Homo sapiens: one gene and its partners. The protein of the gene in region 3 interacts with the protein of the main gene of each other region in a pairwise test. Each region holds a gene or a part of one and is shown on either strand. Other genes may lie near its edges. The genes, in order: NDUFAB1, IQUB, ZNF410, VBP1, COL10A1, PDE4DIP and DPEP2NB.

Region 1 (3,500 bases), on a different chromosome or scaffold from region 3:
TGGTTGGTTTGTCCTCCTACCTTGTTGGGACACTTTGCCTTTCAGGCTGGAGTGCAGTGGCATGATCGTGGCTCACTGCAGCCTTGACCTCCTGGACTCAAATGGTCCTCCTGCCTCAGCTTCCTGAGTAGCTGGGACTACAGGCATGAGCCACCACCCCTAATTTTTTGATGTCTGTCTTCTTTTTAGAGACGGAATCTCCTTATGTTGCCTAGGCTAGTTGTGAACTCTTGGGCTCAAGCAATCCTCCTGCCTCAGCCTCCCAAGTGCTGGGATTACAGGCATGAGCCATCACACCTGGTGTGCCTAACCCTTAAATGTTGGTGGGCTCCCGAGTTCTCTTACCACACATGCTCCCTGGACTCTTCACTCCTGGTTTCTGTTATTGCTGTATATCCCAGACCTCCGCCTCCAGTCCTTGTTCATCTCATTTGGACCATTGCTCATGCTACCTATTCCCTGCTGTGAAATTTCCTCTCCTCAAATCCATCCACTATGCCAACTTCAGAGCAACTAGTCACTCATTTACACCCTTTTTCCCAAAAGGAGCTAAGGCAGTTTTCCTGGGTATAAAAATACCAGATGATATAAAATAGAAGGTAAGGAAAAAACAAAAAAACAAAAACCAAGGGCAATGGCCTAAAATGCAGCCTGGAAGTCTTATACTTGATCCAGGTAGGCCCCGAATCTACACTGTCTAGCAGATGGAGCACAAAGATAATTTCCAGCAGTTCTATGGGGCATGGTACGCAGATGAAGACAGCACTTGTACAAAAAAAAGCTAGCTATTCCAGGACTGGGACCAGGACCAGACAAAGTCCCAGTCCCTTCCCATGGCCCTTAAGGCTCTGCAGACCTGGGCCCTCCCTCTTAGCCTCCAAGCCTGTCATCTGTGTACCATCTCCCAACATGAGCTGATGTCTTCTCACATAGACACAGGCACTGCACTTTCATGACTTTTTTTTTTTTTTTTTTTCCAGACAAGGTCTCTGTCACTTAGGCTGGAGTGCAGTGGCATGATCATATATCAGTGCAGCTTCAAACTCCTGGGCTCAAGCAATCCTTCTGCCTCAGTCCCTTGACTAGCTGGGATAACTGGCCTGCGCTACCACGCCTGACCTCATTTCGTTTTCTTGACCTGTTCTTCCCTCTCCTTGAATTATCAGTCTCAGCTCTTTTCCTCACCAAATCCAAGTCTGGCATCCTCCTTTCCGGCCACTCAAGGACTGAGTGACAACTTTTGTTATTGCATCAGCCTACAGATACTTCTGTCATGGTGCTTGCCATATTTTTATTTCAACTAAAATGATCTGTGGATTGGTCTTTTCCATTAGAGTGTAAGCTTCTTTTGGGGGAAGGTTGTGTCTTATTCATCTTTGCATTTCCAGCCCATTGCACAGTTCTTGGCACACAGGTAAAGTTCCCAGGCTTCTGAGACAGTCGTGTAAATAAAGGCAAGGCATTGTGAAACAGGTGTGTGTAGTGCAAAAGCAAAAAGAGATACTTGACCAATCTCTCAGTGAACGTGATCTTGAAGGCCTGTGCAGAGGCCAGGAAGAGCCTGGCACTTACCTCCTTGTGGTTGACTCTTAGGGTGTCTGGAAGGGAACATTGTTGGGGGGAAGAGAGTGAGCATATCATGAAGGGAGCTGTATGCTGCAGCGAGGAATTGTGGGTATTCTCTGCAAAGGTCATAGGGAGTGAACATGAAACAGGGCTTATTGAAGGAATAAGCCCCAGGTGGCGGAGAAGGAACAGAGGTCTGTAAGCAGGAGTTTTGGAGACAGGTCAGGAGTTCATTTCCAAACTGTTGAGTTTGAGAGGTCTGGGCTGCCTGTGTAGAGTGGACCAGTCGGCAGTTTGTAGAGACGGCCTTTAAAGCCCTCTCCTTAGCCTCCTCTGAGTTTGCCTCAGGCAGAAGTGAGCCCCAGTGGAGTACCGGGATTCTGATGGAACCTCATCTGTTTGAATTACTAGCCCAGAGGGTCATCACTCTTTACCTGCAAACAGTACCTTCTCTGATGTCTGGGAGAGGTGGTTTATTTCCCATATACTTGTTAAGTGTAGATCTTGGGGAAGAACAACTAACACCAGAAACATCACATGTTGGCTGTTGGGGAGGTGCTTGTCCATTTTGTATCCCTTTTATTTTTTCCCAATCAACAGAGATCCAGTTAGAAGGAGCAGCAAGACCTTCCAGGAGGCCATGCTGGAAGGACATGGGGTGAGGAGGATACCTAACCTTCCCTTGCCTCAGTTTCTCATCTGTAAAAAGGAGGGTGATAGTATCATGGATCTCACCAGAATACTGGAGAGCTGAAGAAAGATGATGTGTGTAAAGTGCAATATCATAGCCTGAGCTGATAAGAAATTAATGGAGGCCGGGACGTGGTGGCTTATGCATGTAATCCCAGCACTTTGAGAGGCTGAGGTGAGTGGATCACTTGAGACCAGGAGTTCAGGACCAGCCTGGCCAACATGGTAAAACCTCATCTCCACTAAAAATACAGAAATTAGCCAGGCATGGTGGTGCACGCCTGTAATCCCAGCTACTTGGGAGGCAGAGGCATAAGAATCACTTGAACCTGGGAGGCAGAAGTTGTGGTGAGCCAAGGTCACAACACTGCACTCCAGCCTGGGCAACACAGTGAGACTCTGTCTGAAAAAAAAAAAAAAAAGAGACCAGAGGCAGGAGCATGAGAGGGTAGTAGGATCAAGTATTTTGGGGCTACGCTACAGCCAAGGTATCAAACTAGCTGCTGCTGGTCATTGTTCTCAGGATCCTACTAAATAACCCTAAATAGCACTTACTGTGTTAAGTGCCAGCCAATGTCCAAGCCTTTACTTCATCTCACTGATGCTTCACAACAGTCCTGTGAGTGTGGTACTGTTGTTTATCCCCATTTTACAGATGAGGAAACTGAGATGTAGAAGGTTAAGTAACCCACCCAAGGCCAAACAACTAGTGAGAGCCAGCACCATGGTGCAGGCATAGGTGGTCTAGTTTCAGCGTCTGAGCTCTTGCCCACTAACTTACTGCCTCACGCTGATCCTGATGCAGCACCCACTCTAGATTGGCATGTGGCCTCCAGTCAGAGACTCGTTTAATTTAATCACATGGTGCCCACCTGGCCCTTGTAGGTACTTGCTGGAGCTGCTGAGGACAATGCTGACAACCTAGTTGGCCTCATGGGTAGTTGTGTACGAACATAGAATATACCCTCACCAGGGGTCTTGCTTTGTTGCCCAGGTTGGTCTGGAACTCCTGGGCTCAAGCGATCCTTCCACTTTGGCCTCCCAAAGTGTTGGGATTACAGGCGTGAGCCACCACACCTGGCATCGTACCATTTCTTTTTTTTTTTTTTTTTTTTTTTCTTTTTGGAGACAGAGTCTCACCCTGCCGCCCAGGCTGGAGTGTAGAGCCATGATCTCAGTTCACTGCAACCTCTGCCTCCTAGGTTCAAGTGATCCTCCCACTTCAGCCTCCTGATTAGCTGGGA
Region 2 (3,500 bases), on a different chromosome or scaffold from region 3:
GTGACAGACGGCACCTGGAAAATCGGGTCACTCCCACCCGAATACTGCGCTTTTCCGACAGGCTTAAAAAACGGCGGACCAGGAGATTATATCCCCCACCCGGCTCGGAGGGTCCTACGCCCACGGAGTCTCGCTAATTGCTAGCACAGCAGTCTGAGATCAAACTGCAAGGCGGCAGCGAGGCTGGGGGAGGGGCGCCCGCCATTGCTCAGGCTTGCTTAGGTAAACAAAGCAGCTGGGAAGCTCCAACTGGGTGGAGCCCACCACAGCTCAAGGAGGCCTGCCTGCCTCTGTAGGCTCCACCTCTGGGGGCAGGGCACAGACAAACAAAAAGACAGCAGTAAACTCTGCAGACTTAAATGTCCCTGTCTGACAGCTTTGAAGAGAGCAGTGGTTCTCCCAGCACGCAGCTGGAGATCTGAGAACGGGCAGACTGCCTCCTCAAGTGGGTCCCTGGCCCCTGACCCCCGAGCAGCCTAACTGGGAGGCACCCCCCAGCAGGGGCAGACTGACACCTCACACGGCCGGGTGCTCCAACAGACCTGCAGCCGAGGGTCCTGTCTGTTTGAAGGAAAACTAACAAACAGAAAGGACATCCACACCAAAAACCCATCTGTACATCACCATCATCAAAGACCAAAAGTAGATAAAACCACAAAGATGGGGAAAAAACAGAGCAGAAAAACTGGAAACTCTAAAAAGCAGAGTGCCTCTCCTCCTCCAGAGGAACGCAGTTCCTCACCAGCAACAGAACAAAGCTGGATGGAGAATGACTTTGACGAGCTGAGAGAAGAAGGCTTCAGACGATCAAATTACTCCGAGCTACAGGAGGAAATTCAAACCAAAGGCAAAGAAGTTGAAAACTTTGAAAAAAATTTGGAAGAATGTATAACTACAATAACCAATAAAGAAAAGTGCTTAAAGGAGCTGATGGAGCTGAAAACCAAGGCTCGAGAACTACGTGAAGAATGCAGAAGCCTCAGGAGCCGATGTGATCAACTGGAAGGAAGGGTATCAGCGATGGAAGATGAAATGAATGAAATGAAGGCTACAAGCCAGAAGAAAGTGGAGGCCAATATTCAACATTCTTAAAGAAAAGAATTTTCAACCCAGAATTTCATATCCAGCCAAACTAAGCTTCATAAGTGAAGGAGAAATAAAATACTTTACAGACAAGCAAATGCTGAGAGATTTTGTCACCACCAGGCCTGCCCTAAAAGAGCGCCTGAAGAAGCGCTAAACGTGGAAAGGAACAACTGGTACCAGCCGCTGCAAAATCACGCCAAAATGTAAAGACCATCGAGACTAGGAAGAAACTGCATCAACTAATGAGCAAAATAACCAGCTAACATCATAATGACAGGATCAAATTCACACATAACAATATTAACTTTAAATGTAAATGGACTAAATGCTCCAATTAAAAGACACAGACTGGCAAATTGGATAAAGAGTCAAGACCCATCAGTGTGCTGTATTCAGGAAACCCATCTCACGTGCAGAGACACACATAGGCTCAAAATAAAAGGATGGAGGAAGATCTACCAAGCAAATGGAAAACAAAAAAAGGCAGGGGTTGCAATCCTAGTCTCTGATAAAACAGACCTTAAACCAACAAAGATCAAAAGATACAAAGAAGGCCATTACTTAATGGTAAAGGGATCAATTCAACAAGAAGAGCTAACCTAAATATATATGCACCCAATACAGGAGCACCCAGATTCATAAAGCAAGTCCTGAGTGACCTACAAAGAGACTTAGACTCCCACACATTAATAATGGGAGACTTTAACACTCCACTGTCAACATTAGACAGATCAACGAGACAGAAAGTCAACAAAGATACCCAGGAATTGAACTCAGCTCTGCACCAAGTGGACTTAATAGACATCTACAGAACTCTACACCCCAAATCAACAGAATATACATTTTTTTCAGCACCACACCACACCTATTCCAAAATTGACCACATACTTGGAAGTAAAGCTCTCCTCAGCAAATGTAAAAGAACAGAAATTATAACAAACTATCTCTCAGACCACAGTGCAATCAAACTAGAACTCAGGATTAAGAATCTCACTCAAAACCGCTTAACTACATGGAAACTGAACAACATGCTCCTGAATGACTACTGGGTACATAACAAAATGAAGGCAGAAATAAAGATGTTCTTTGAAACCAACGAGAACAAAGACACAACATACCAGCATCTCTGGGATGCATTCAAAGCAGTGTGTAGAGGGAAATTTATAGCACTAAATGCCCACAAGAGAAAGCAGGAAAGATCCAAAATTGACATCCTAACATCACAATTAAAAGAACTAGAAAAGCAAGAGCAAACACTTTCAAAAGCTAGCAGAAGGCAAGAAATAACTAAAATCAGAGCAGAAATGAAGGAAACAGAGACACAAAAAACCCTTCAAAAAATTAATGAATCCAGGAGCTGGTTTTTTGAAAGGATGAACAAAATTGATAGACCGCTAGCAAGACGAATAAAGAAAAAAAGAGAGAAGAATCAAATAGACGCAATAAAAAATGATAAAGGGGATATCACCACCTATCCCACAGAAATACAAACTACCATCAGAGAATACTACAAACACCTCTACGCAAATAAACTAGAAAATCTAGAAGAAATGGATAAATTCCTGGACACATACACTCTCCCAAGACTAAACCAGGAAGAAGTTGAACCTCTGAATAGACCAATAACAGGAGCTGAAATTGTGGCAATAATCAATAGCTTACCAACCAAAAAGAGTCCAGGACCAGATGGATTCACAGCCGAATTCTACCAGAGGTACAAGGAGGAAATGGTACCATTCCTTCTGAAACTATTCCGATCAATAGAAAAAGAGGGAATCCTCCCTAACTCATTTTATGAGGCCAGCATCATCCTGATACCAAAGCTGGGCAGAGACACAACCAAAAAAGAGAATTTTAGACCAATATCCTTGATGAACATTGATGCAAAAATCTTCAATAAAATACTGGCAAACCGAATCCAGCAGCACATGAAAAAGCTTATCCAACATGATCAAGTGGGCTTCATCCCTGGGATACAAGCCTGGTTCAATATACGCAAATCAATAAATGTAATCCAGCATATAAACAGAACCAAAGACAAAAACCACATGATTATCTCAATAGATGCAGAAAAGGCCTTTGACAAAATTCAACAACACTTCATGCTAAAAACTCTCAATAAATTAGGTATTGATGGGACGTATCTGAAAATAATAAGAGCTATCTATGACAAACCCACAGCCAATATCATACTGAATGGGCCAAAACTGGAAGCATTCCCTTTGAAAACTGGCACAAGACAGGGATGCCCTCTCTCACCACTCCTATTCAACATAGTGTTGGAAGTTCTGGCCAGGGCAATTAGGCAGGAGAAGGAAATAAAGGCTATTCAATTAGGAAAAGAGGAAGTCAAATTGTCCCTGTTTGCAGACGACATGATTGTATATCTAGAAAACCCCATTGTCTCAGCCCAA
Region 3 (3,500 bases):
CGATCTCGGCTCACTGCAATCTCCATCTCCTAGGTCCAAGCGATTCCCCTACCTCAGCCTCCTGAGTAGCTGGGTCTGCAGGCACATGCCACCACACCTAGCTAATTTTTTGTATTTTAGTTGAGACGGAGTTGCACCATGTTGGCCAGGATGGTCTCAATCTCCTGACCTTGTGTTCCGCCTGCCTCGGCCTCCCAAAATGCTGGGATTACAGGCGTGAGCCACTGCTCCCGGCCTAAATGGTTACTTTTTTACAATGAAAAATGAGGATTTCAGGTAGCTTAGAAAGAGAGAGGGAGAAACCAACAGGACAAAAAAACATTTATTCAGTTACTTTTTTTTTTTTTTGAGATGGAGTCTTGCTCTGTCGCCCAGGCTGGAGTACAGTGACGCAGTCTCAGCTCACTGCAACCTCCATCTCTCGGGTTCAAGCGATTCTCCTGCCACAGCCTCCCGAGTAGCTGGGATTACAGGCACCCGCCACATGCCCGGCTAATTTTTGTATTTTTAGTAGAGACGGGGTTTCGCCATATTGGCCAGGCTGGTCTTGAACTCCTGACCTCAGGTGACCCACCCGCCTCGGCCTCCCAAAGTGCTGGGTTTACAGGCGTGAGCCACCGTGCCCAGCCTAAGTGCCCTCTTTGTAAAGTCTGTCTTGTTCTACCTTTCCACACTACCTGGTATTAATTGGAAACTTTAAAGTACCCATTGATTGAAAATATACCCATCCTGGATACATTTTACACTGTATGATTATTTGTAATAGTGCTCCCAATTTTAGTAACAATTGTACAAAATAAAATGGACTCACATTCCAAAATCCTGAAAAGAAACTAAGCTATAAGAAAGTAAGAATTTAAGTTATAGGGAGTGGCTGGGCGCAGTGGCTCACACCTGTAATCTCAGCACTTTGGGAGGCCACGGCAGGCGGATCACCTGAAGTTGGGAGTTCGAGACCAGCCTGACCAACATGGAGAAACCGTCTCTACTAAAAATACAAAATTAGCCAGGTGTGGTGTCTCATGCCTGTAATCCCAGCTACTCCAGGAGTCTGAGGCAGAATTGCTTGAACCTGGGAGGCAGAGGTTGTGGTGAGCTGAGATCGTGCCATTGTGCTCCAGCCTGGGCAACAAGAGCAAAACTCCATCTCTAAATAAATAAATAAAAGAGAGAGAACAGCCGCATCAGGGTCCTGAGAGCACTACCTTTGGGAAACGCTCTTCAAATTTTAACTTTTTTTTTTTTAAATGTAATTTTAAAAATTATCAAAACAATATGGTTGCCTTTTAGAAATATTGGAAAATTGAGAAAAGAAAATTAAGTCACACCAGCCTACCACACGGTATAGCTACGGTCATAGCTGTATGAATCTCCTTTTACTTTTTCTGATGCTTATTATAACTAGTTTTAATAATAGCAAGTATATAATTTTGTATTTTATTTTTATAATTTAACATGTCAGTCACTTGTTGTTGCATTGTCTTCATAGCATTTGTTTGTTGGTTTGTTTTTTGAGATAGAGTCTTGCTCTGTCGCCCAGGCTGGAGTGCAGTGGTCTGACCTTGGCTCACTGCAACCTCCACCTCCTGGGTTCAAGGGATTCTCCTGCCTCAGTCTCCCGAGTAGCTGGGATTACAGGTGCCTGCGACCATGCTCAGCTAATTTTTGTATTTTTAGTAGAGAGGGGGTTTCACTATGTTGGCCAGGCTGGTCTCGAACTATTGACCTCAAGTGATCCACCTGCTTCAGCCTATCAAAGTGCTGGGATTACAGTTGTAAGCCACCACACCCAACCCTTCACAGCATATTTTGAAGTGACAGTGCCATATTTAATCAACCATTCCCTAATTGGGGGTGTGTGTGTGTGTATACATTGCTTCCAGTTGTTTATTACATAGGATAAGACGGACATCTTTGGACATAGCTCTATCCATATTTAAGATAGTTTTTTAGATTATTAGAGGTTGAAATACTGCATCAAAGCGTAGTATTTTTATGGGTTTTGATGCCTGTTGAGCTTGTTGTATTTTAAAAGAAGTGTTTCGGTTTGAATTCTTTATTTGCTTGCTTGTTGTGATTTTTTTTGTATATGTAAAGAAGTGTCTTTATGTACCTGTGTTTTCCCACTGCTCTTAATGCCCCCTCTCTCTTTTTTACCCCTATTCTAGGTTACATTGATTACCCACCTAGTACAACATCTTACGGGAAGAGCATAGTATTTCCTAGAGGAATATGAACATAACAGGAAGGTATCATTGGCTCTGAATTAAATTTGAACTTGTCCCCTGAATAGCTACAGGTTTTGGAAGCTGAATCAATGTTATCAGATGAGTTAGAATCCAAACCAGAGGTGAGCCCAGTCAGCTTGTTTCCTTTTCTTTTGGTGGGCTATATTTCAAAGTTTATCTTCAGTTTAGGGGGTCAGCAAACTTTTTCTTTAATGGGCCAGATAATAAATATTTTAGGTTTTTTAAGCTATATGGTTTTGATTGTTACTATTTTTTCAAAGATTTAAAAATTATATTTTTTGTGATTGTTTTTATATCTGTTTTTCAGTATATGTGAAATCATACATTTAGATAATGTAATAAAATCTTATAAATAAAAATATATGTTTATGTATAAATATATACATAAATATGAGATACATGTGATGTATAGGTGTATAAGTATATAAATATTTACTACTACAAATTCTTTTGTTTATTTTATATATATCTGTAAGTATTTTCTTTCTAAATGTGATTGGGGATTTAAACATTTTTTGTTGTTCACTTTTCTTACTTTAAATTTAGCACATCTGTGTTGCAGAGTGGTCACTGAATTTGGAATCAGATTACTTAAATTTGAGGATTGGCATTGCTCCTAACTAGTCTTGTGACCTTAGACAAGTCACTTAATGTCTTCAATTTTATTCCTCAGCTGTAAAATATGCCTTAAGTTTGGGTGCGGTGGCTCACGCCTGTAATCCCAGCACTTTGGGAGGCCGAGGCAGGTGGATCATGAGGTCAGGAGTTCAAGACCATCCTGCCTAACATGGTGAAACCCTGTCTCTACTAAAAATACAAAAAAAATTAGCTGGGCGTGGTGGCGGGCACCTGTAGTCCCAGCTACTTGGGAGGCTGAGGCAGGAGAATGGCGTGAACCCAGGAGGTGGAGCTTGCAGTGAGCCAAGATCATGCCACTGCACTCCAGCCTGGGCAACAGAGCAAGACTCTGTCTCAAAAAAAAATACATCTTAAATCTTACTGGGTTAATGCGATAATTAAATGAGCCAGTACACAGAAAAGTGTTTTGTAAAATGTAATCAATATGATGCAGTTGATTTTTTTTAAGCCATTATTTTAAAATGTAATTATTTTTATCATTTCTCTGTTTGACAGAAGGTGGCAGAGGTTAACTTAATTACAGTGAAGTGTCACTTAGCGATAGAGATACATTCTGAGAAATATGATGGTAGTTGATATCATTATTATGCGAACATGGTAGAGTATACTTAC
Region 4 (3,500 bases), on a different chromosome or scaffold from region 3:
AGCCTCCCAAGTAGTTGGAGGGCTACTTTTCTCTTTTTATTTTTCTGGAATTTCTCTCACTCCTATGATGTCAGCTATGCAACAAAACTATTTTTGTGTCATGATCTAGTTGTTTTGCAGCAGATGGCTCTATGTAGTTTACATGCTAGCCTTTTTGTTTTTTTTTTTTTTCAATTTGCTATTATTTTATTTAGGATTTTTGAATTTCTGTTCATAAGTGAGTTCAGCCTATTTCTTTCTTTTTTTAATTTTTTTAGTATTGATCATTCTTGGGTGTTTCTCGGAGAGGGGGATTTGGCAGGGTCATAGGACAATAGTGGAGGGAAGGTCAGCAGGTAAACATGTGAACAAAGGTCTCTGGTTTTCCTAGGCAGAGGGCCCTGCCGCCTTCCGCAGTGTTTGTGTCCCTGGGTACTTGAGATTAGGGAGTGGTGATGACTCTTAACGAGCATGCTGCCTTCAAGCATGTGTTTAACAAAGCACATCTTGCACCGCCCTTAATCCATTTAACCCTGAGTGGACACAGCACATGTTTCAGAGAGCACGGGGTTGGGGGTAAGGTTATAGATTAACAGCATCCCAAGGCAGAAGAATTTTTCCTAGTACAGAACAAAATGGAGTCTCCCATGTCCACCTCTTTCCACACAGACACAGCAACAATCTGATCTCTCCTTCCTTTCCCCACATTTCCCCCTTCTCTATTCGACAAAACCTCCATCGTCATCATGGCCCGTTCTCAACGAGCTGTTGGGTACACCTCCCAGACGGGGTGGCGGCCGGGCAGAGGGGCTCCTCACTTCCCAGACGGGGCGGCCGGGCAGAGGCACCCCCCCACCTCCCGGACGGGGCGGCTGGCCGGGCGGGGGCTGCCCCCCACCTGCCGGACGGGGCGGCTGCCAGGCGGAGGGGCTCCTCACTTCTCAGATGGGGCGGCTGCCGGGCGGAGGGGCTCCTCACCTCTCAGACGGGGTGGCTGGTCAGAGACGCTCCTCACCTCCCAGACGGGGTGGCGGCGGGGCAGAGGTGCTCTTCACATCTCAGACGGGGTGGCTGGGCAGAGGCGCTCCCCACATCTCAGAGGATGGGCGGCCGGGCAGAGACGCTCCTCACTTCCTAGACGGGATGACGGCCTGGAAGAGGCGCTCCTCACTTCCCAGAGTGGGCGGCCGGGCAGAGGGGCTCCTCACATCCCAGACGATGGGCGGCCAGGCAGAGACGCTCCTCACTTCCCAGATGGGGTGGCGGCCGGGCAGAGGCTGCAATCTCGGCACTTTGGGAGGCCAAGGCAGGCGGCTGGGAGGTGGAGGTTGTAGCGAGCCGAGATCACGCCACTGCACTCCAGCCTGGGCACCATTGAGCACTGAGTGAGCGAGACTCCGTCTGCAATCCCGGCACCTCGGGAGGCCGAGGCTGGCAGATCACTCGCGGTCAGGAGCTGGAGACCAGCCCGGCCAACACAGCGAAACCCTGTCTCCACCAAAAAAATACGAAAACCAGTCAGGCGTGGTGGCGCGTGCCTGCAATCCCAGGCACTCGGCAGGCTGAGGCAGGAGAATCAGTCAGGGAGGTTGCAGTGAGTCGAGATGGCGGCAGTACAGTCCAGCCTCGGCTCGGCATCAGAGGGAGACCATGCAAAGAGGGCGAGGGCGAGGGTGAGGGTGAGGCTAGCCTTTTTCTTTGTATGTGTTGTAAATCTTGCAGCCTGTCATTTAACTTTACCCTTCAAGCTGTGTAAAAGTTCCTTAGTATTTCATGTGTTAATCTCTTTTTCGACACTTGAATCTGAGATCTTTTATCTTTCTTTAATTGGAAATTTTGTGATTATCACTTTTTCTATCGTCTGTTAATTTTTTTTCCTCTTTCTTTCTGGGATTCCTGTTTACAGATGTTGACACTTCTAATTCTGCCTTCCATTTATTTATATTATTTCCCTTTTTTCTGTCTTTGTCATTTATCTTTTGGCAATTAGATGGATAGCCATGAGTTCTTTGTTTCAGCTGTTAAGATTTTTATAGCTGGTAGTTCTGGTTGGTTCCTCTTCATATTACCAATATCCTTTCTTTTCTCTTTGTGGTATCTTTAAGTATTTAATGTATAGTTTTATCTTTTGGTATTTGTTAATTTTGTTTCATATGGTAGAGGTTGTTGAATTTATTGTCTTTATTTATTATAATGATCAAATTATAATGTCTTTTCCCTGTCAGCTTAGATTCCCTCAGGGATATCAGCTACTTTGGCCAGTAATGTACGTGGAGGTGGGGGTAATTTAAGTCACTCCTGGTGGGTAGCAGTGGCGCTACCTCGGCTCACTGCAACCTCCACCTCCTGGATTCAAGGGATCCTCCCGCCTCAACTTCCCAAGTAGCTGGGATTACAAGCATGCACCACCACGCCCAGCTAATTTTTTTGTATTTTTTTTTAGTAGAGACTGAGTTTCACCATGCTGGCCAGGCCGGTCTCGAACTCCTGGCCTCAGGTGATCCACCCGCTTCGGCCTCCCAAAGTGCTGGGATTACAGGCGTGAATCACTGTGCCCAGCCAAGCTACTTTCTCTTCAGGTGAAGCAGGGTAGGGAGGAGTGTATTGCTTGGGCATGTGCTGTGTCATTGGTGGTCTGGTTCCTAAGTTAGCTAGGGCTGCATCTGATTGATTCATTAATATGCTTTATAGCATATTACATATAATATTTATATATACAGAATGCATCTTAAAAGTCATTTACATGACAAAAAATCTTGATCTGAACATACTCCTTATGTTGTGTGTGTATCACATATTTTACAAATGTATAACATCTTTCTGTTTACCTATATGAACATATCATGCAAAAATAAGCAAACTTGAGCAATCTATGGCATCCAGATTGAATTGTAGTGAAAAAATGAATGCTAGGTGTTTCTAGATTATTCACTGGACTGTATTATCAAATGATGACACTATGTTTTTTTCTTAAGCAGCAGGCTCATTTAACACATTTCTTGCCAGGTCAGTAGCACAGGGTGTAGTAAATTTGCCCTGCCAACCTGCTGCACACATGGAGTGACTTCTTTTATGTGACGCAATAAGTTCATTTTCATTGTTGTGTTTATATTTTGTTTACATTTTGGTCTCTAATAATATTTAGTAAATTTACCTCGAAAGAACCAGAGCTTCGTTTTTATATCCTTAGTCTGTTTTGCTAGAAATTACATTTGACAGAGACCCTAGAACTGTTTTGCATATATCTCCATGCAAAACACATGCATCTAATTACCATAAAGAGCTAAACCCCAGTGACAAAAACGGTATCATTGTTTTCTCTCTTTAATTGACTGAATGTTTTTAGCATACTGTTTTTCTCTTATGTTCTTGTCAGTGAGGTTGATTGCATTTGGGAGTCACTTACTAGCATTTTGCTAGTAGCTATCATATAACTTATCCATTAAGTCGGATCAGTTGTATCATGTCCATCATTGTTTTTTTAAATTTCTTGTGTTTAAATCAGTGATCCATTTATAATT
Region 5 (3,932 bases), on a different chromosome or scaffold from region 3:
AGAAAGGGAAAAGAAAAAGGACAAATCTTTAGTTCATTCACTGGTCAAACTTTCAATTATTTCAATTATTGATTAGTCCTGAATCCATACTACTTTAATTCTGTGGAGGTAGAAAAATGATGTGTCTATGCCTGTGTATGGAATTGTCCTCCTCAACCAGTTCACCTGCATAGTCAATTTGATTTTGATTCAAAACGATGAAATTAAATAAGATGAAAAATTTGGACTCTCAACTTCCCACCTTTATTAGATTTTTTAGGATCCTAAAAACTGATTTTAAAGGCTTCCTAATATTGTTAAACAGAGTCTAACTACCAAAATTGACAACAATAGTGTTTACTTCCACCTTTGAGGGAAAGTGTTTCTAATTGGGATGATTCCTAACTGCAAGTTAAGCCAATAATATTTTTTTTAAGCTGAAAGCAAAGTTTGAAAATTTTTTTCTCCTGAAATAAACACAGCAATCTTATGTAAATTAACATAATATGAGATTATCAAATTAAGGGGTTTTTGCAAACTCTACTGCAACTCTAAAGTAAACCCAAATTTAAGCAAGAAAATCTGAAGTCATTTACTGAATATAGCGTAGTGTTGTGAATAAGGGATCTAAATCCTAAAAGCCTAAAAGTAATTAAGAATTGGGGTCAGCTATTTTCACAAAAATTTATGAATATTAATAGACACATTGATAACTTTATGTAATAACTCAATAATTTAGATGATGGTCTAAATCCAGTACCCCCTTCAAGGAATTTTATCCGCTTTTATGTACTACCACATATTATATAATATCAACCAATTAACATAAGAATGTGCTTTTCAAAAATAAAAAGGGGGTATCATCATTCCACCGTGAACCAGCCTGAACACTAGAGTATTAATTAATAAAATAGAATCACAGACAAAGACGGTCCTTGGTTAAAACTATTAATATATATTTAAGACAATGGGTTTATTTTTAAATAAGAAAACAAGGAAAAGGAGAGCCCAGCCCGATCTTGTGTGCCTACCCAATAGAACTTTCCACCATAATTAGTGCTTACCAACTTTGAGGGGAGGAGCTTAAGCTCAGGGTAACCTCATGTAGTAAGGGAAAAACAGTATAAATACCACTGAACAGCTCTTGAGAGGCACCTTCTGCACTGCTCATCTGGGCAGAGGAAGCTTCAGAAAGCTGCCAAGGCACCATCTCCAGGAACTCCCAGCACGCAGGTAAGCGTACGCTTACTGGTGGACTTCCATGTTAACTTGCTTGGAAAGAAACTTTAAAGATTTAAATACTTGAGTTTTCTCAAGTATTAGAAGTATTAAAGTGATTTAAAAAATGGGTTTCTACTAAAATGCACTCCAAAAGTTCTTTTTGCATCAGTCTGTGGATGATAGTCCCAATAAAACCATATTGTAAAAATTTGCCCTAATCCGAATTTCAGTGTATTTTGAAACTATTAGATATTTCAGGCTATGTCAAAGATCCTAGATTATTTAATACAGACATCCAATCCTAATTTCTGTTTCTTTTCCTTTAGGTAAATCATTTTATTTTCACTTGATTACCTGAGTATAGCTTCCAAAAATAACTAAGACATATATTCACATAACTAAAAAATGATCTCTCATTTATTTATGGCACATATTAAAAATATATAGGATAGGTTAAAAAAGTAGATAACTGTATAAAGAACTCATCTGTGAAACATGAGAATAAAAAAATAGGTTAATAACAATGCTGTATAAAGTTATTCTTTTCTGTTTTTCAGAATCCATCTGAGAATATGCTGCCACAAATACCCTTTTTGCTGCTAGTATCCTTGAACTTGGTTCATGGAGTGTTTTACGCTGAACGATACCAAATGCCCACAGGCATAAAAGGCCCACTACCCAACACCAAGACACAGTTCTTCATTCCCTACACCATAAAGAGTAAAGGTAAATTGAATTGTATATTTTGTTCTATTAACAAGTTGCTTGTTGCTTTCTATAATCTTAATAATCTCTTTAACAAAATGCATTTAACTTTGGTGTTACTTTCCAACTTCTGAATTAGCCCAAATTATTACAACAAAGTGATCTGTGAAAAAAGTAGAACAAGAATATCCAATAAGTGTAGTAGAAAGGATATACTTGAAAATATAGTTGAAAGATATACCTGCAAAAAATCAGAACTTTTGTGTGTACAAATTTTTTTCTCAGATGCTGCTTTTGCACAAATAACTGCATGTAATCCAGAAATCTTGATCTAATCAAAACTAATCAAGTTTAAAAATTTTAAGCTAAAAATAACTGCCAATTGTATAAAGAAGGTAGCTGGTTTATTTAGCTAAATATTAAACATTTACTTTTAAAACTAATTCAACTAGCCCACAAACAGATATAAAACCGAGTCTTATCAAAAAAATCTGATGGCCTCCCCCCCAACAATGAACAAATGTAATTATGAGAATTGCCAAGCAGGCAAATGAAACTGCAATTCTCATAATTACTTATACATTTTGAATATAGTTTAGCGGTAAAATGCAGAGACTTAACTGTAATGCATAAGCTGTGTGACCTGAGGTAAGTTACTTGTCCTCCCATGCCTTAGTTTCCTCATTTGTAAAATAAGGAGCAGCTATCTCAAGGGCTGCTGCGAAGTTTAAATGAATTAATACCTGTAAAGTGCTTTAAGTGTTGCTATTACTTCTACTACTACTTCTGTTACTCCTAGTTTTATTTCTACTACTTTTAGCTACTAATATAGCCTTCAATAAGTTAACTTTCTTCTTGAATCTGTTGCTTACCTGTCCAGTTTTCTTGGTTACTCTTTGAAGATTACTGAGATAATATATGTAAAGCACTAAGGTTCTCAAAGGAGGGCAACTTCTAGGCCTCATATTCACTAATTTTATTTAACAGCAACTGACACGACCGCCTATAAAATATCTACAGAATAATATAAACTGACTGTAGGCTTCAAACTCCCTTTCCATAATTTTTTAATTATATATTTTATACTGTAAATAAAGCTAAGGATATTTGTTATAAAGTTTAAATATTATGCTTTTGGGAACAACCATTTTGAGCAATGAAACTTATAGAATTGTCTTTTTAAGAAGAAAGATGGAATTTAAAATATTTCACAAAAGGAAACTTAATATTTGAAAATAAATGCACAGGTATACAACAGATACTTTTGAATGTCTCAAAATATAAATAAAAATTTTAAAATTTAAAGGCTAGTAAAGAAAAAAATAAAAGACAAAGCAACCTTCCGCTTTACTTGAAGCAACAAACACAATTTGAAATGCTATGACAAACAGCACTGGATTCAATAGTTTCCATGATCACAAAAATCAGACTTTTTAACACCTTAATAAGAGCATAACAAAGTCTTGAATTAAAAAGAAAATGCACTATTTTAGAAGGTTAAAAATACTTTGATCTTCTCTTAATATACACCATTATCTTGGCTACTTTTGCAGAACAAATGAAAATATCTTAACAAATGAAAAGTTCAGAAGCTGTATTTAAACTACTAAATCCACCTTAGTCTCTTTTTAGATAGACACTCAACTACACTATCATCCATTGGCAGACATTAATGCACCATAACAAACACAAAAGCCCACAGTCTATACAAGTAAGACATTAAGTTGAAACAGGAATTCAAAGAGTTATTACATAATTCCTAGGCATATCCATCCAACACAGGTTAAAAAAGAGTTCTGTCAAAACATACTAAATTATGCTGCAGAGGATTCCACAGCTGGTGGGCAGATGCACGTGCCACATTCTGACACAACCAATCACGATTTCAGTTTGTGGCATTTAAAAAACTTAATAGAAGGAAGTAGTCGTTTTACCTTGAGGATTGTGCCACCCTAATCTTGAATGAAGAAAATTTTTTCAGATGACAACCTACAAACAGGGGCTGTCCCCCAAGCATTCAATAGAAG
Region 6 (3,500 bases), on a different chromosome or scaffold from region 3:
CGTAAGCCAGCCTGGCCAACATGGTGAAACCCCATCTCTACTAAAAATACAAAACTTAGCGGGCATGGTGGTGCATGCCTGTAATCCCAGCTACTTGGGAGGCTGAAGCAGAAGAATTGCTTGAACCCAGGAGGCAGAGGTTGCAGTGAGCCAAGATTGCGCCATCGCACTCCAGCTGGGTGACAGAGGGAGATGCCATCTCAAAAAAAAAAAAAAAAAAGAATTTACTTCTTAAATATTGTGAAATTAATATACCCTGTACTATTATGAGATTGTTTATTCTCACCATGACCTCTGAAAAATGCGATCTTTTTTCCCTCTTAACTCAGATTTTACAAAAACTAAGAGTAAACATGTTGAGTGTAAGTTTTCCCATACCTTGACTGGAAATGCAAAATATCACTCAAGTCTTAACAATTTAGAATCAAAATCGAAACACTCACAACCCCTACTCCTTTCTCTCAAAATTATCAGATTATTAAGGAAAAGAAAATGTATGTAATGAAGTTAATGGATACATGTATTGTTTAGGCACCCTTCCAAATGCAAGGTTTTCAAGAAATGTGTCATACTTTGATGATTAATGTAAAACTGTGGTCTAAGGCCAGGCGCAGCAGCTCACACGTATAGTCCCAGCACTTTGGGAAGCCAAGGCAGGATGATTGCTTGAGCCCAGGAGTTTGAGACCAGCCTGTGCAACACAGCGAAACCCCCATCTCTAAATAAGTAAGTAAATAAATAAAACTGTGGTTTAGGTAATAAATAGAAGGAAAGAAACTAACAGAGTTGACGGTAAAATATATAAATATACACACATCTATAGTCTGCAAATGCTTCCTATTTGCAGACTATAAATGCACTACATGACACTTGTCTGATCTGTGCATTAATCCTTACTTGGCTTTCCTGCTCCCTGGTGCTCACAGACTGAAGCAGGCCTTGAATCTCCATTTCATGTTCCAGCACTTGTTTATTTCGATCACTTAGAAGGTCCTGCAGCATCCTTTCCTTTCGCTGTAGACGCTGGCACAGCTCCTCTGCTATCTCACTCTGCCCTGGTCCAAGTTTGCAGAGCAGTGTTGCACTAAGATCCTAATGCAGAAAGGACACTGTAAGCTTCTGGAGGAAAGAAATGCCTCTGCTAAATATCAAAGGGCTTATAAGAATCTATCATAGAAGAAGGAGGTGTGAGATTCTTGAGAATAAGTATCATGTTTTACTCATTTTTGTTTTACCAGATCTAGCACAGGCCTGCTACACAGAAGTCTCTAAATACATGTCCCAGGAATGAATACAAACCATACAGAAAACTATCTCTGGTGGCCACTTACATACATATTGTTTTCTGAAATAAGTCTTTTTCCTATTTGTTCAGGGCATGTAACAATTAATGTTAGATGAGGATAAATGGACACTCAGTTCATTTATTTGTTTTCTCCCCAGTGTAACTTAACAGGGGGAAGCATAAAACGATAAGCTGAAAGGAATACTAAACACTATATTTGCTATCATAGCGATGGTTTCTATTTCTGTACTAACTGATGGCACATGGTGGAGGAATGGAGCCATACTGCCTAGGTTGATACTGGATCTGCTACTTATTAGCTATGTTAGCTTGGACAAGTTACTTAGCTTCAGAAGTCTGTTTCCTCCTCTATAAAAAGGAATAATAGAAAGTACCTCATGGACTTGTGAGGATCCAATGAGTTAATATCCATTAGGATCTTAAAACAGTACCTGACCCAGCATGAAGACTATAACTAATAAAGGTTAGCTATCATGTTAAAGATGCAATTTTTGGGTCTCATTAATTCTCACATAAGTTCTTTGAGAAAGTTAATTGCCAACTTAAGTTTCTAGACGTGGGGAAAAAAAAAATCCCAGTGAAAGTCAATGACTTGCCCAGGCACAGAATGAAATTAAAGACTTGGGTCACAGTCCTCCCAATCTGAAGAGTCCTAATCCAAGGCTGAGATTACATAATCACTGAACCAACTGCCTTAAAGTTAACTGAAGTCTTGCCTCCACTTCTTTGTTCCTATCATGAAGAGACGTCTGTAACTGCTGAATGATACTCTCTTGTTCCTTCTGCCAACGGCTAAATTTGGTTTCCATTTCTTCTTTCAGCCACTGGAGGTTTTGACAGGTAGTAGATAACTGTTCCACTTCCAGGCCTTTGGCCCTCAGGAGACTCTCCATACTCTACAGCCATAAAGAGAGCAATAATCAGTCAAAATGATTACCCCATACTCCTCAGGATAAACAAGAAATTAGATCCACTTTTAAATAATCTCCCATCAATTTTTTTTTATTTGCAAGATGAGAACATTGATCTAACAATGCCATACTAATCTATTTTTTTGGTTTTTAGAAACTTTTATCTAGTTTGTGGAGAGATTAAATATAGAATATATGATAAAAGGAAGTATTTTGGAGGAAGTGCACTATGCTATAAAGGATTTCTCGAAAAAGTGGCAGATAGATACATAAGCTCTAAAATAAATATGCAAAAAAGTCCACAGTAAATATAGATAAACAAGTGTTCTAATTATGGCAATTCATGGACATGTAGATAATATTAATGTAGAAGACACAATTTAATAATTGCACCCTGGTAATGCTTCAGTAAAAGTAAGAGAGAGAGAGAAGAGCGTGTGTGTATGTATACTTATGTATGAACAAGAATTGGAAATAAATCAGAACTATGTAAACAGAAATCAATATTTACTGGCTCTCCTCACAAAGTTCATATTACAAAAGAAAAGTAGAAGCGCTAAAATCTCTCACTTGCTAATTGACAATGATGGAACTAGTAACTGCTCTTTTTGGTTTTCTTCCCCCTTATAAAGCAAAATCCCTGGTTTTCAGAAAATGATGGAAGGGGGTCATGCTTCAGGCTCAGGATACAAGTGGGAGAGGAACACCAAGTCAGAGATAGGTTTTGCTCTTACTTGCATAGTAGCTTCATTGGAGGAGAGGACATCGCGCAGTCTCTCTAAGTCATGATCTCGCTCTCTCACAGCAAGACGAAGCTGGCGCAGTTCTTTTTCTTTCTCTTCTAGAGCAGAGAATTTTTCATCTATAGCCCGCTGCAAGGAAAGGAAGACTCCTAAAGCTCTGTAAGATTTACTATCCTGATCACTCTTATTCAACAAGATGGCAGAATAGAAAACCAAATCCCAAAGCAGCAAATTTAAGCAAACACAAATTTCTATAATACCTATGTAGATAGAATAATCCATAGCATAGTGGGCGAAATGATGATACATACCTCCAGAGCAACAGCTTTATCATGTATTCGCTGGCGAAGTTTCTCAAGCAACATTTCATTTGCTTCAAGGGTTTTGTCTGAGTTATCTCGATACTGTAGGAGCTCCCGAAATTCCTGAGACCAAAAATAGTTTCTTTTATTCTTTTATCCAATATTAACTAAATTACCAAGTAATTTGCTAGTTATTCAGGATAAAAAAAAAACAAGATGTGATCACTCTCCTCAAAAG
Region 7 (4,299 bases), on a different chromosome or scaffold from region 3:
CTTGAGGACGGGGGAGTTTGAGAGCAGACTGGCCAACATGGCAAAACCCTGTCTCTACTAAAAATACAAAAATTAGCTGGGCGTGGTGGCAGGTGCCTGTAGTCCCAGCTTCTCAGGAGGCTGAGACACGAGAATCCCTTGAAGGGGAGGTTGCGGTGAGTCAAGATCATTGCACCACTGTACTCCAGCCTGGGCAACAGAGTGAGACTCTGTCTCAAAAAACATAAATAAAATAAAAAAGACCTTGCACTTGATGGATCAGCTGACACCACCCAGATTAATCTTGTGGCTCCCCCACCCAGGAACTGACTCGGCAAGAGGATACTTTCGACTACCTAAGATTTCTTTTTTTTTTCCTTTGAGATGGAGTCTCACTCTGTCGCCTAGGCTGGAGTGCAGTGGCATGATCTTGGCTCACTGCAATCTCTGCCTCCTGGGTTTCAGTGCTTCAGCCTCCCAGGTAGCTAGCTGGGGTTACAGACAGCGCCACCACGCCCGGCTAACTTTTTGTTTTTGTTGTTGTTTTTGAGACAGAGTCTCGCTCTGTCACTAGGCTGGAATGCAATGGCTGGATCTCAGCTCACTGCAACCCACACCTCCCAGATTCAGGATTCTTCTGCCTCAGCCTCCCAAGTAGCTGGGACTACAGGCACATGCCACCACACCCAGCTAAATTGTATTTTTAGTAGAGACAGGGTTTCACCATATTGGCCAGGATGGTCTCGATCTCTTGACCTCGTGATCCGCCCACCTTGGCCTCCGAAAGTGCTGGGATTACAGGCATGAGCCACCGCGTCCAGCCTAATTTTTGTTTTTTTAGGGGTTTCACCATGTTGGCCAGGCTGGTCAGCCTCCCAGAGTGCTGGGATTACAAGCACGAGCTGCCACGCCCAAGCTGACTCCCTATGATTTCATCTCTGACCCAACCAATCAGCTTTCCGGACTCACTGCCCACCACCCACCAAATTATCTTTAAAAACTCTGATCCCTGAATGCTTAGGGAGACTGATTTGAGTAATAAAACTCCAGTCTCCCGCACAGCTAGCTCTGCGTGAATTACTCTTTATTGCAATTTCCCTGTCTTGATAAATCAGCTTTGTCTAGGCAGTGGCAAGGGGAACACGTTGGGCAGTTACTCTTTGCGTGTGTCCAGATCTCACCAGTCCTTCAAGTCCAGCTCGAAGGAGCCTTCCATGATCCCTTTGTCCATCCCAATCTCTGCCTCTCCTGCTGTTGATTGCTTAGCACCAGTGCGTGGCTACCTATCTATCTCTTAGATTAATCTTGCCTCTCCAGCTCATATCAGAATTTAGGTTTCTCTTGCCCTCCTGTGGTCACTGGGGCTTGTACCAGCCGACAGATGTGCCCCACAGAGTGGCTACTAGGCATTTGTAGGGAGGGCTGGATGGGAGGGCCCAGGCAGGATTCCTCTCTATCTCTGCCCTGCTCTCCTCCACAAAACCCTGAAGGCCTGAAGCCTGCCCCTTAAGTCACAGATTCCTTAGGTGACTTCACAGGGTAGTGATGACCTCACAAGCTTCCAAAGTTTCCATGGCAGCGTGACTACACACCTGCGTCCTAGAGAAGCCTCCCTACCATTTCTCTGTAAGATACCAATCTGTTTGGTTGGCTGAGAGAGAATGACTGACCGGATCCTCTATATTGTCTCTAACATGTCCTCTGTCCCCTGGGAGGGCAGCGCAGCAGGTAGGCATACAGGGGGCATCTATACAGGAGGCGTTGCTGTACCCACAGCTTCACCTGGCTGACACATTCCTTCTGGGCTGGCCCACCACACCTCGAGCTTTCCCAGCCATAAGTAATATCGAGGGCGTGGCCACTCAGGGACCCACAGTGTTCCTGCTCAGGGCAAGTTCACCTGCTAAGGGCAAGTGAAATGTCATCTGAGCAGGTGCTCAGAAAGGTTCTCATCTTTTTTTTTTTTTTTTTTTTTTAATTGAGATGGGGTCTTGCTATGTTGCTGGGGCTGGTCTGAATTTTTTTTTTTTTTTTTTTTTTTTTTGAGACAGGTTCTCTGTCGTCCAGGTTGGAGCACACTGGCATAATCACAGCTCACTGAAACCTCAACTTCCTGGGCTCAGGGGATTCTCCCAACTCGTCTCCCTAGTAGCTGGGACTACAGGCACGCGCCACCACACCCAGCTAATTTTTTCTCTTTTTAGTAGTGACAGGGTTTCGCCATGTTGCCTAGGCTGGTCTTGAACTCCTGAGCTCAAGCGATCGGCCCACCTCAGCCTCCCAAAGTGCTAGGATTACGGGCGTGAGGCACTGTGCCTGGCCCACCAATTTGTATTAGATCTTTTTATTTTAGTCTCGCTCTGTCACCCAGGCTGGAGTGCAGTGGCACAATATTAGATCCTTTTTTTCTTTTTCTTTTTCTTTTTTGAGACAGTGTCTCGCTCTGTCACCCAGGCTGGAATGCAGTGGTGCGATCTTGGCTCACTGCAACCTCCGCCTCCCAGGTTCAAGCGATTCTCCTGCCTCAGCCTCCCAAGCAGCTGGGACTACAGGTGCGTGCCACCATGCCTGACTAATTTTTTGTATTTTTAGTAGAGATGGGGTTTCACCATGTTGGCCAGGCTGGTACTCCTGGGCTCAAGTGATCCTCCCTCCTCAGTTTCCCAAAGTGCTGAGATTATAAGCGTGAACCACCCCACCTGGCTGATAGTAGATCATTTTTTACAAAACTTGAAAATAATTTCCATTAAAGCCTGAGATGTGACAGACCTTAAGAAATGTATTTTTGGTCATGGAAGGGATGAGGAGGATCTCCTGGTCTCCTGCTGCTGACACAGGCTCCACATAACTGCTTTCACAGCCAGCATCCTGTCTCAGGGACACATAGAGGTGATAGGCCAAGGCTGTGTCTGGGATGCGAAGAAGATGAAAGGACTTCTTAGGAAGAGTCGCGAGAGAGGGTAGGCTGTAACAGCACAATGTATAAGGTAAAAGTGACTAATTCTGGTTTTCTTTCCAGCTGCAGTGCCTGCCACTTCTCCTCCCACACCTGGGCACTACCATGTTCTCTACCGAGGGTGTGGAGAAACTCAGGTAGGCTGGCATGGGGAGACGTACTGCCTGGTTGGTGGCTACCGGGTCCATGGGGATGCTCCTTTGGCCACCCCAACAAAGGCTGAAGCAGAGAAGCCAGCCCCCAGGCGTGCTCCCAAGAGACGTCAAGCTACGATAGAGTCAGATAAAGACCTGGGTTGCTCTAGCCCCAAAATTCGGCGCTTGGAGCATCGTGGCAGGAGACTGACCCCACAGAAGCTTGCTGGCTGAGCCATTTGGGAGAAAGGACAAATGTTTAGCTGTCTAAGACAGCTAATGCCTCTTCTGCGGTGACCTCCCCTGCCCACCACTGCAGATAGAGCCTGAGTCATTCTGCCTATGCCTTCCTCATCCAGAAGCCCCCTTCCATGCTAACTACCCATGGCCAAGGAGCCTCAGAAACTGTGGTTTAAAATGAGAGGTTGCTTTGAACATCCCAAGGCTGAAGACGGCCTGGAAGAAAACCTGATGTTCCTCTACTCATCTCTCCAGAGTCCCTTTTTGGGCAGAAGATAGAAATAGTCTGCACTCTGCTAGCCGAGGAGTCAAGTGCAGAGAGGGAGTGCAGCATAGCCCAGTAAGGGCTTGATCTACCAGATGGGTCTTTGCTTTGAGTCACTGCCAGCAACTACCAGCACAAACCAGGAGGGCCAGGACTTGCTGAAACTGGAAGCAGCAGCCCATGGCTAGTCACAGCAGGAGAAAGCCTCCTGCTTGGCATCTCAGGAGGTAGAAGAAAGAGACCTGGGGAGACCTGCCACCTACAGCAAGAACAATAAGGAGGAAGTTGAGCAACATCCCCCTGAAGCTCACATGTTACTTTATTTCCTGCCCATTATGGCCCCAGTGAGGTCCCTACTGCTCAATTTAAAAAAAAATTAAAAAAATTATTTTTCCATAACAGTATTTGACTTGATCATCTTTTTTTTTTTTCTTTTTTGACGGAGTCTCACTCTGTCACCCAGGCTGGCGTGCAGTGGCACTATCTCGGCTCCCTGCAAGCTCCACCTCCTGGGTTCACGCCATTCTCCTGCCTCAGCCTCCCTGGTAGCTGGGACTACAGGCGCCCGCCACCACACCCAGCCAATTTTTGTATTTTTAGCAGAGACGGGGTTTCACCATGTTGGCCAGGATGGTCTTGATCTCCTGACCTCAAGATCTGCCCGCGTTGGCCTCCCAAAGTTCTGGGATTATAGGCATGAGCCACCATACCCAGCCTCTTTCTTC

What was found.
Region 1: the proteins of ZNF410 (region 3) and NDUFAB1 interact in binary tests that used the Homo sapiens proteins (3 or more experiments, as listed by UniProt).
Region 2: the proteins of ZNF410 (region 3) and IQUB interact in binary tests that used the Homo sapiens proteins (3 or more experiments, as listed by UniProt).
Region 4: the proteins of ZNF410 (region 3) and VBP1 interact in binary tests that used the Homo sapiens proteins (3 or more experiments, as listed by UniProt).
Region 5: the proteins of ZNF410 (region 3) and COL10A1 interact in binary tests that used the Homo sapiens proteins (3 or more experiments, as listed by UniProt).
Region 6: the proteins of ZNF410 (region 3) and PDE4DIP interact in binary tests that used the Homo sapiens proteins (3 or more experiments, as listed by UniProt).
Region 7: the proteins of ZNF410 (region 3) and DPEP2NB interact in binary tests that used the Homo sapiens proteins (3 or more experiments, as listed by UniProt).

The regions. Positions count from the first base shown.
Region 1 is NC_000016.10:23,589,817-23,593,316, reverse strand, and holds part of NDUFAB1 (acyl carrier protein, mitochondrial precursor), read left to right. Parts: intron 1-2,166; coding exon of another isoform or gene 2,167-2,224; intron 2,225-3,500. UniProt on the Homo sapiens protein: Carrier of the growing fatty acid chain in fatty acid biosynthesis.
Region 2 is NC_000007.14:123,524,596-123,528,095, reverse strand, and holds part of IQUB (IQ motif and ubiquitin-like domain-containing protein), read left to right. Parts: intron 1-3,500. UniProt on the Homo sapiens protein: Adapter protein that anchors the radial spoke 1 (RS1) complex to the A microtubule of outer doublet microtubules in axonemes. The triple radial spokes (RS1, RS2 and RS3) are required to modulate beating of the sperm flagellum.
Region 3 is NC_000014.9:73,889,859-73,893,358, forward strand, and holds part of ZNF410 (zinc finger protein 410), read left to right. Parts: intron 1-2,168; 5' UTR 2,169-2,317; coding exon 2,318-2,350; intron 2,351-3,500. UniProt on the Homo sapiens protein: Transcription factor that binds to the sequence motif 5'-CATCCCATAATA-3', and is specifically required to silence expression of fetal hemoglobin in adult erythroid cells.
Region 4 is NC_000023.11:155,222,960-155,226,459, forward strand, and holds part of VBP1 (prefoldin subunit 3), read left to right. Parts: intron 1-3,500. UniProt on the Homo sapiens protein: Binds specifically to cytosolic chaperonin (c-CPN) and transfers target proteins to it. Binds to nascent polypeptide chain and promotes folding in an environment in which there are many competing pathways for nonnative proteins.
Region 5 is NC_000006.12:116,123,333-116,127,264, reverse strand, and holds the start of COL10A1 (collagen alpha-1(X) chain precursor), read left to right. Parts: upstream 1-1,132; 5' UTR 1,133-1,212; intron 1,213-1,757; 5' UTR 1,758-1,772; coding exon 1,773-1,926; intron 1,927-3,932.
Region 6 is NC_000001.11:148,966,428-148,969,927, reverse strand, and holds part of PDE4DIP (myomegalin), read right to left. Parts: intron 3,386-3,500; coding exon 3,272-3,385; intron 3,090-3,271; coding exon 2,952-3,089; intron 2,203-2,951; coding exon 2,023-2,202; intron 1,093-2,022; coding exon 898-1,092; intron 1-897. UniProt on the Homo sapiens protein: Functions as an anchor sequestering components of the cAMP-dependent pathway to Golgi and/or centrosomes.
Region 7 is NC_000016.10:68,013,112-68,017,410, reverse strand, and holds DPEP2NB (DPEP2 neighbor protein), read left to right. Parts: upstream 1-1,499; 5' UTR 1,500-1,640; coding exon 1,641-1,707; intron 1,708-2,998; coding exon 2,999-3,303; 3' UTR 3,304-3,975; downstream 3,976-4,299.